Regions from separate parts of the Homo sapiens genome. Here all the other regions are linked to region 2. Evidence: fine-mapped expression QTL. A gene starts in region 2. Each other region holds a variant in brackets. All regions are shown on one strand. Distances are from middle to middle.

Evidence for each region. PIP is the estimated chance that this variant, and not a neighbour inherited with it, causes the effect.
Region 1: its variant is the best candidate, but not a certain one, in a credible set for the expression of AAR2 in whole blood (INTERVAL, PIP 0.60).
Region 3: its variant is the best candidate, but not a certain one, in a credible set for the expression of AAR2 in whole blood (INTERVAL, PIP 0.77).

The regions. Positions count from the first base shown.
Region 1 is chr20:36,174,997-36,177,753 of GRCh38, reverse strand. It overlaps EPB41L1 (erythrocyte membrane protein band 4.1 like 1), which reads right to left. Exons shown (of 22, transcript NM_012156.2): 3 at 2,039-2,203. LOC124904892 (a long non-coding RNA gene) reads left to right here. Exons shown (of 3, transcript XR_007067571.1): 3 at 2,585-2,757. Among named protein-coding and RNA genes, the nearest start is that of EPB41L1-AS1, 21 kb to the right of the region's middle. The variant C/T (reference allele first, on the strand shown) is at 1,555.
Region 2 is chr20:36,234,962-36,237,699 of GRCh38, reverse strand. AAR2 (AAR2 splicing factor) reads right to left here and starts at 1,222. Exons shown (of 4, transcript NM_001271874.2): 1 at 1,197-1,222. It overlaps LOC105372602 (a long non-coding RNA gene), which reads left to right and starts at 1,234. Exons shown (of 3, transcript XR_936695.2): 1 at 1,234-1,342.
Region 3 is chr20:36,189,797-36,192,553 of GRCh38, reverse strand. It overlaps EPB41L1 (erythrocyte membrane protein band 4.1 like 1), which reads right to left. Exons shown (of 22, transcript NM_012156.2): 10 at 2,180-2,277; 11 at 1,757-1,932. The region is part of intron 1 of LOC124904892 (a long non-coding RNA gene); the gene reads left to right. Among named protein-coding and RNA genes, the nearest start is that of EPB41L1-AS1, 35 kb to the right of the region's middle. The variant AG/G (reference allele first, on the strand shown) is at 1,596.

The DNA of each region.
Region 1 (2,757 bases), 60 kb after region 2:
CCTTGATGGCCTTCTTCCAAGTTCTGGTGGTGGTTTCTGGACTTTGAGCTTGCTTGGGGAGAAGCTGAAGTGGAAGGCATAGGAAGTGACGGCTTTCTCCTTCCTTTTTAGTGATTAGGAGAAGGAGGCTAACTTAGACCGAAGGGGCAGAAAAGCAAGTCCTAAGCTTTGGGTGTGAGAGGAAGAGAAGCCGCCCCTGGAATATGACAGAAGCGGGCAGGGGGAGAAGGGGAGGGCTTGGGGCTCAGGGTCACAGTGTGACCCTCCCTTCCCTGAGTGAAATCCAGGGCAGCCCAGGCTAGCCCACCACTCCCTTCCCCACAGCCAGTGAGGTTTCACAGAGGCTCATGGGGCCTCCATCAGCTTCTGCTGGAAGTACCATTGTTAGGGCCAGGTAGGTTCCTCCCACTCCTGTAGAGCTAGGCTTGGGCCTCTCTGAACCACCATTCAGAATGACGAAGCCGAGAACCCGACTGGGCACTCCAAACCCACAGGGGTAAAGATGAGCACCAATAAGGGGATCACATGGCAGGGGAACAGGAGGCAGTCACCACCCAAAGAGGCAGGGACTCTAGAGAGGGAGTGAGACCCCTGTAAGGTCTGGCTGGGCCCTCGGGACCAAGCCTGACAAGGAATTCCTGAACCTGGAGATCATCAGAGAGAGAGGACCTAGCCTCAGTCAAATGCTTTGTGCACTTCTAGGACAGGCAGAAATGGCATCTTGGGGCCCATCAAGGTAGGAGAGAGGACATAGAAGACAGCCCTTTCCTTTGTCCCAGGAGCAGGGAAGGTGAAATCTTTCTATAGACAAAATACATACACAGTCGGGTGCAGTGGCTCATGCCTGTAATCCCAGCACTTTGGGAGGCCAAGGCAGGCAGATCACTTGAGGCCAGGAGTTTGAGACCAGCCTGGGCAACATGGTGAAACCCTGTCTCTACTAAAAATACAAAAATTAGCCGGGTGTGGTGGCGGGCACCTGTAATCCCAGCTATTCAGGAGGCTGAAGCAGGAGAACTGCTTGAACCTGGGAGATTGAGGTTGCAGGGAGCTGAGATCGCACCACTGCACACCAGCCTGGGCAACAGAGCAAGACTCTGTCTCAACAAAAAAAAAAAAAAAAGAAAAAAAAGAAAAAATACATGTACATAAAAACAAAACAAATCAAAACCCTGTAGAGAAGAGGGACTCAGCCTCCCAGGGCTCAGGAGTAAGCCACATCCCTAAAATCAGTGCATGGGAGAGAAAAGGGGGCAGCTCCTATATATCTCAGTAGCAAGGACACCCTCTGAGCCCTTTCACACATGCGGAGAAGGGCCACGAATGCTGCCTCGGCAGGGATAGAACCTCTAAGGGCTCACAGAGGGGGCGAGCGAGAGCTCAGAATTAGGGCGGGAGTCAGAACCTATATAGGAAAAGGAGACCTAAATGTGAGGCCAGGAGGGCCAAACCCAGAAGGAGGCATCTGCTGTGTCACCACCATGGGGCAGGGCCATACCACAGGGTTTCTACATGGCCTGGGTGACATCTTCCCAATGGGCCGCCTCCCTGTGA[C/T]GTGGTGATGGGCTTGCCATAGAACCCTCAGGTGACTAGTTTGTCCTGGAGACTTGAGATGGTGCCCTGGACAGGGACATTCACTAGGAAGGGAGGAGCCCTCTCTCCACCCAGTATATAAAAATGATTCTAATTTAAATGTCAGTCTCTCCTGGGTGAATAGGGGAGCCCAGTTCCCAGGTCTACTGTTTGTAGATCAGCCCTTACATGGTGGCATCCTTGCCAAGGTATAGTCACCCTGCAAAATCTTCCCCTGGTGCCAGCCCTGTACCTCGTCTAATTCTATTTGCAATCATAACCACTCTCTCCAGGCTTTGGTGCCACCATCTGTACAAAGGAGCTCCGAGCCAGGTCATCTCTCTGGACACTGTGACTGGTCCAGGACTCCTCTGGTTTGGCCCAAGCTGGGTACACACAGGAGCCTGCCCTGGACCTGAGGCTGGCTGACCGGGGACGGGACATATGGCACTCAGTGCTCCCCTACCTCCACCTCACACTCATACTCCGAGGCATCAAGCAGAGTGACCCGGCAGATGGCACTCTTGTATTTCTTGGCAATCTTCTGGGGCGATTTCTGGGCCTTGCTGGGCGTGGTCCTCTCCGAAAGGCCATCGGCCTCACTGTAGTCCTTCTCCTCCATGTCTAGGCTCTGCAGGACCAAGCAAGGGAATAGTTTGCTCAGTGAGTTTTAAGCCATGGCCTTTCATATAAGTAAGAAGCAATATAGAGGCATCTGGGGCCAAGACAGACCCCAGAATGAAAGTCGCTACCGTCTGAGACCCACAGGGCAACTAGGGTCCATGGCTGGTGTGTACAGGAGGAGAGCCAGGGCTTCCATGCATAATGGGTGGCCTTGTGTGAGGGGTCCCCATCTTCCCTGCAGGCTACTGCTGCCATAGGCATCCTCTGAGGCAGGAGCATCCCATGAAACCAAAGCCAGTGGCCAGAGCTGCCCTGTCTCCCCAGAGCAGCACATGACTCATCACAGCATCCATCTGGTCTCCTTCTTTTTGTCTGTCACTGGATCTAGCAGGAGTCTGGGAGCTGTGGACTGAGTTAAAGGAGAGGAGAAAGGCCAGAGACCTGCCCCACCGCCGCCCGCCCCGGGTCCTAACTCCACTGCTGATGCCCTCAGTGATCTTGGCCAAGTCCCTGCCCCCTCCAGGCCTGTCGTGAATTAAGGAAGGTGTTAATTAGATGAGG
Region 2 (2,738 bases):
CTGAATGAACAGATATTCCATTTACAATAACAGCTCATCAATTAGCCATTTTCCCTTGTGACATCTGTGTGCTCCTCCTTGATAATGACGTTTCTTTCATGCTAATTCCACCAGTCTGTAATTCTATTCACTATATCTCCAGCAGCTGGCACAGGGCCTAGCACAGAGGAGATGCTAGGAAAACGTTTATTAAATATGCATAGAACTCTGCAGTCTACCAGCCCCTGTCACTGACAGCTCTGTGAGTTCCTCACAGTCCTGGAACACCTAAAGTCACATCCATCCACTTCTCTCCACCACCTCCCTAATCCAAGCTACCATCGTCCCTCACTCAGAGTGCTTGCTCCTCAACCCATTCTCCATTCAACAGCAGTAACCTTTTCAAAATGCCAATCTAATCACAACACCACCCATGTCAGCTTCTGAGTGGTTTCCCATATGGTTCTTGAAAAACCAGAATTCTTCCTATTACCTACAAAGCCTGCACGGTCTGACTCCTGGCAACCCCTTTAGCTTGTGTCACACAATGGTCCCCCACAAGCTCTCTGTTCCAGCCACAACGGCCTCTTTCAGAACCTGAAATTGGAGGCTGTCTCCATATAGAAAACTCTTCCCTCCCCACTTTGTCAAATCCTTTTTTCTGATCTCAGCTCAATATTCACCTCCTCAGTAAAGGTTCCTTGCCCTGGGGCTAGGTCAGGTCTCCTGTGATATAATCTGGGGTGCCTTGTACCTTTCCGTCTCAATGATCACAACTGCAGTTTTGGATGTTTGATTGAAGGCTGTCATCGCCACGAGACTTGAGTCCTGCTGTATCCCTAGCACAGATTCAACGCTTAGTAAACATTTATTTAATACAAGTATGATATCCATTTTGTAAACGAGAAACAAAGCCTCAGTTCGGGGAAAGACCTTACTGGAAGTCACGCAGAGAGTAGGGCAGAGCCAGGTCGAGTGCAATCAGGGTCTCCGGCCCCCAGGCTCTAAAGTTAAGAAAACCGCGACGTAACTCTGGCGACGGCTTCTCAGGAAGGGCCTCCAGAGACACCAGCGTCCCACAAACAGAGAACCAGCCGCCCCGGCGAGGTGGGCCTAGTTCAAGGCACTCCGTGACTCTGAGCCGAGAAGAGGGGCGGCCCAGCCACACATACACAAGGAATCAGGAAAGGAAAAAGAGGCCAGGAGGCCACACTCACCGCCTCGCCCCACGTTCCGGTACAGCGGAAACGCACCGGAAGTTCTCCAGCTTTGGCGTCTGACTGGAGCGACGGGGGAAGCGGTCCGGCAGAGCCCTGGGTCGCGGGAAGAATGGCCCGTGCCTGCAGGTTCCGCCGGATGCAAGGTTGCCTTTTGTTATTCTTAGTTTCTCGTTTTAGCTTCTGAATTGTGAACAACTTTCATTAACCTATGCATTTTATATCCCCGTCCAGAAACACAGCCACCAGCCATCTTACTTTGGGCTCAAGCAGTCATGGTCACTAAAGCACAGCCAAGGCTTGTACCAGTGGCTACTATTCAGAAGTAGCCAGTCAGGCGCTCGGTCACTGTCTTTGTCAGCCAGTCTCTATCCCGGTCACAGTGTCTCAGCTTCCAGTCACACTCAGCCCTCGGGGAGAGCCTCAGAAACCCAGCCACCAGCCCAGAGAGAACCAGCGTCAGCCTCCGCTGCTGCAGCAGCAGCGGTCGCCACCTCAGTCCCTCTGGCCATTATCACCCCGTGTCCTTCCTGCAGGCCAAGTCCTAACATCTCAGTCAGGCTATCAACGCACTAGGGAAGGAATCTGCCTGTCTTGTTCCTCACTGTTTCCCTGGAACCGAGCACAAAGCCAGGCACAAAAGCTCAGCTGAGTACATATATTATGCATTTAATTAATAATGATGATAATTTGGTATTAATAAATAACTATTTGTGGGTCTAACCCTGCACTATTAATCAGGGTTCCACCAAAGATACAGAGCCAGTAGGAGATCTATATTAAGTGATTTATTGCCAAGAATTGGCTTATGTGATTTTAGGGCAGGCCACTTGGGTATTTCTTTTTTTGAGACGCAATCTCACTCTGTCACCCAGGCTGGAGTGCAATGGCGCTATCTCGGCTCACTGCAACCTCCACCTCCTGGGTTCAAGCCATTCTCCTGCCTCAGCCTCCCAAGTAGCTGGGATTACAGGCGCCCACCACCGTGCCTGGCTAATTTTTGTATTTTTAGTAGAGACGGGGTTTCATCTTGTTGGCCAGGCTGGTTTCGAACTCCTGACCTCAGGTGATCTGCCCACCTTGGCCTCTCAAAGTGCTGGGATTACAGGCATGAGCCACCGTGCCCGGCCCACTTGGGTATTTATAATCCTTGCACTAACCCTTGTAAGGTATGTGTATTCCCAATTTGCAGAAGAGAAAACTGAGGTTCAAAGAGATGTTACACAGCCAGAGAATGGCAGAGCTAGAATGCAAACCAAGGGCTGTCTGTTCTTATCTCTTGTGCTGCTGCTCCTTAGCTTGTCTGTCACATTTCCTCAGTGACAGCTGGACACGCCAATCTGTCTCGGTCAAAATTTATCTCTTAGTGGGTTGCAGACTAGACCGGGCCCTGCAGTCATGGTTAATCACAATGAGCTGCTGCAGGATTAACCAGAGACAGCCTCCATCAGTCACAGTCATGCTTACCAATCTCAGCCTGTCCTGTCAAGTTTCATCTCCTGCATGAAGAAGCTCAGCTCCCTCTCCACCCCTCCCCACTCC
Region 3 (2,757 bases), 45 kb after region 2:
TTTTTTTTTTTTTTTTTTTTTTGAGACGGAGTCTTGCTCTGTCACCAGGCTAGAGTACAGTGGCGGTGCAATCTTGGCTCACTGCAACCTTCATCTCCCGGGTTCAAGTGATTCTCCTGCCTGAGCTCCCGAGTAGCTGGGACTACAGGCGCCTGCCACCATGCCTGGCTAATCTTTGTATTTTTAGTAGAGACGAGGTTTCACCATGTTGGCCAGGATGGTCTTGATCTCTGGACCTCGTGATCCACCTGCCTTGGCTTCCCGAAGTGTTGGGATTATAGGTGTGAGCCACTGTGCCTGGCCTTTTTATTTTTTATTTTTTTTATTTTTTTTGAGATGGAGTCTCGCTTTGTTGCCCAGGCTGGAATGCAATGGTGTGAGCTCACTGCAACCTCTGCCTCCCAGGTCCAAGCAATTCTCCTGTTTCAGCCTCCCGAGTAGCTGAGATTACAGGTGCATGCCACCACGCCCGGCTAATTTTTGTATTTTTAGTAGAGATGGGGTTTCATCATATTGGTCAGGCTGGTCTCGAACTCCTGACCTCAGGTGATCTGCCCGCCTTGGCCTCCCAAAGTGCTGGGATTACAGGCATGAGTCACCATGCCCAGCCCCCACTTCCCACCTTTAAGCCACTCTCTACAAACCTAAAAACAATAATGATGGGTACAATTTCTTAAGGTGCTACTATGTGCCACAGAATATTTTCTAGGCATGATCTCATTTAGTTTTCCCTAGAACACAGCAAAGTAGGTACTATGTATTTTGTAGAAGAGGAAATAGGCTCAGGGAGTTAAATAAGTTGCTTAAGGTCACCCATCCATTCATTCAGATATTTATGAACCACTTCCAGTGTCCAGAGAACAGCCCACGGTGACTGTCAAGCCGAGATTTGAACTCAGATCTGCATAATTCTGAATCTCCCCAGTGACCCATGTGACTTCCGAACATCACCTACAAACTCTAGTGTGTACATCCTGGGGAGAGACTTGGGCCCTGAAGGGTGCTGATTTAGTAGGTCTGGGGCAAAACCTGGGAATTTTCGTGCTTGCTTAACAATCTCACAGGCGACTCTGATGAAACGTGGTTTGTGCACCACATTTTAAGCCCTATCTGCTTGCTACAGGACTATATAGGGCCAGTTTTCATTGATGTTAAGGGCACCCATCAATCCAATAGAAATGGGGACAGTGGAGAGTGCCATGTGGTTAGATTGTCAATCAGCCCAGAACCTAGTAGAACCAAAAGAATGACCAAGAACGATGCCCTGGCCTCCCAGCAGATAAGGCATCATCAGCTCCACACTGCAGTCATAAGACACTATTCTCCTAGTATGATGATGACCAGTGTAAGGGACACCAGCCTGCAGCAGAGGGATGCAGGGGAGGAGGGTGAATCAGACCTGCACTGCCAGGCCCAAGGTTAGACCACAGGTTAGACTGGTGGATTGCTAAGCTTCTTGGGTAGGTGGCCCAAACCATATGGCTAAACCTGGGACCCCAAAAGACCACGACTCAGGGAAGTTGTGGGGAATCCAGAGAGTGGTAGTATCACATCTCAAGTGGGAGTGAGCTCTAGGTTGGGACTAAGCCACCAAG[AG/G]CTGCCCAGGGACAGCACTGGTCTTGAGGGGCCAGCCTGGTGCAGATGAACTTGGGATGCATCTACCATTTTCCTGCTCATTCTGCAGAACCCAGCATGCCCACTCCCCCAGTTCCCTCTGAAGACCATTCCCCGCCCAGCCCTCCAATTTGGGCCATACCTCCATCAAGGCTGCGGGACATGGTGTACCGTTTGCTGGAAGAACGCTCAAAGAAGGGTGCAGGCCGGTCAATGAGGGCGCTGGCCTGGCGAGTCTGTGCCTGGGTCCTCCCACTGTACCGGAACTTGGAGCCCATCACCAGGAAGCCCTTGGGTGGGGGCTCAGGGGACACCAGCCTGCAGCAGAGGGATGCAGGGGAGGAGGAGGAATCAGACCTGCACTGCCAGGCCCAAGGTTAGACCACAGCTGGCCTTTCATCCCACTACTCCACCAACTACAACAATTCAAAGTGGTCCAGGAAGGGAGGGACTTGGGGAAAGGGTGGAGGACTTTCCTAGAGTTCTCACTAACTCCTCCCCCTGCTCCCCTCCATACACATGGCCTCTGCCCCATCCCCATTACCCCATCCAAGGTCAGGCTCACCGGAAGAATGTATGATGCTCGATGCAGACCTTCCACAGTCTCTTGGCTGACCGGTGGTTTGGGAGCTTAAAGCCAATTGTGCTCTCAAATTGCTCATACTGGAAAACCAAAAGGGCAGGTTAGAGGCAGGGCCTGAGCTCACTCTCGCCACTAGCCCATTCTTTGTGTTTTTTATTTTATTTGTTTAATGTTTTTTTGAGACACAGGGTCTCGATCATTTGCCCAGGGTGGAGTACAGTGGCGCAATCATAGCTCACTGTAACCTTGAATTCCTGGGCTCAAGAGATCCTCCTGCCTCAGCCTCCCAAGTAGCCAGGACTACAGTCAGACGACACCACACCAGCTAATTTTTTGTAGAGAATGAGTCTCACTATGTTGCCTAGGCTGGTCTCCAACTCCTGGGCTCAAGCAGTCCTCCCACCTCAGCCTCCCAAAATGCTGGGATTACAGACGTGAGTCATTCTTTCTGAACTCTTCTCAGGCATCTGCGACTTTGGCCTGTTCATTCACTGAATCAATAAGGGTGATTGAGCCCTTACTCTGTGACGGGTCCAGTGCTAAACACTAGAGATACATGG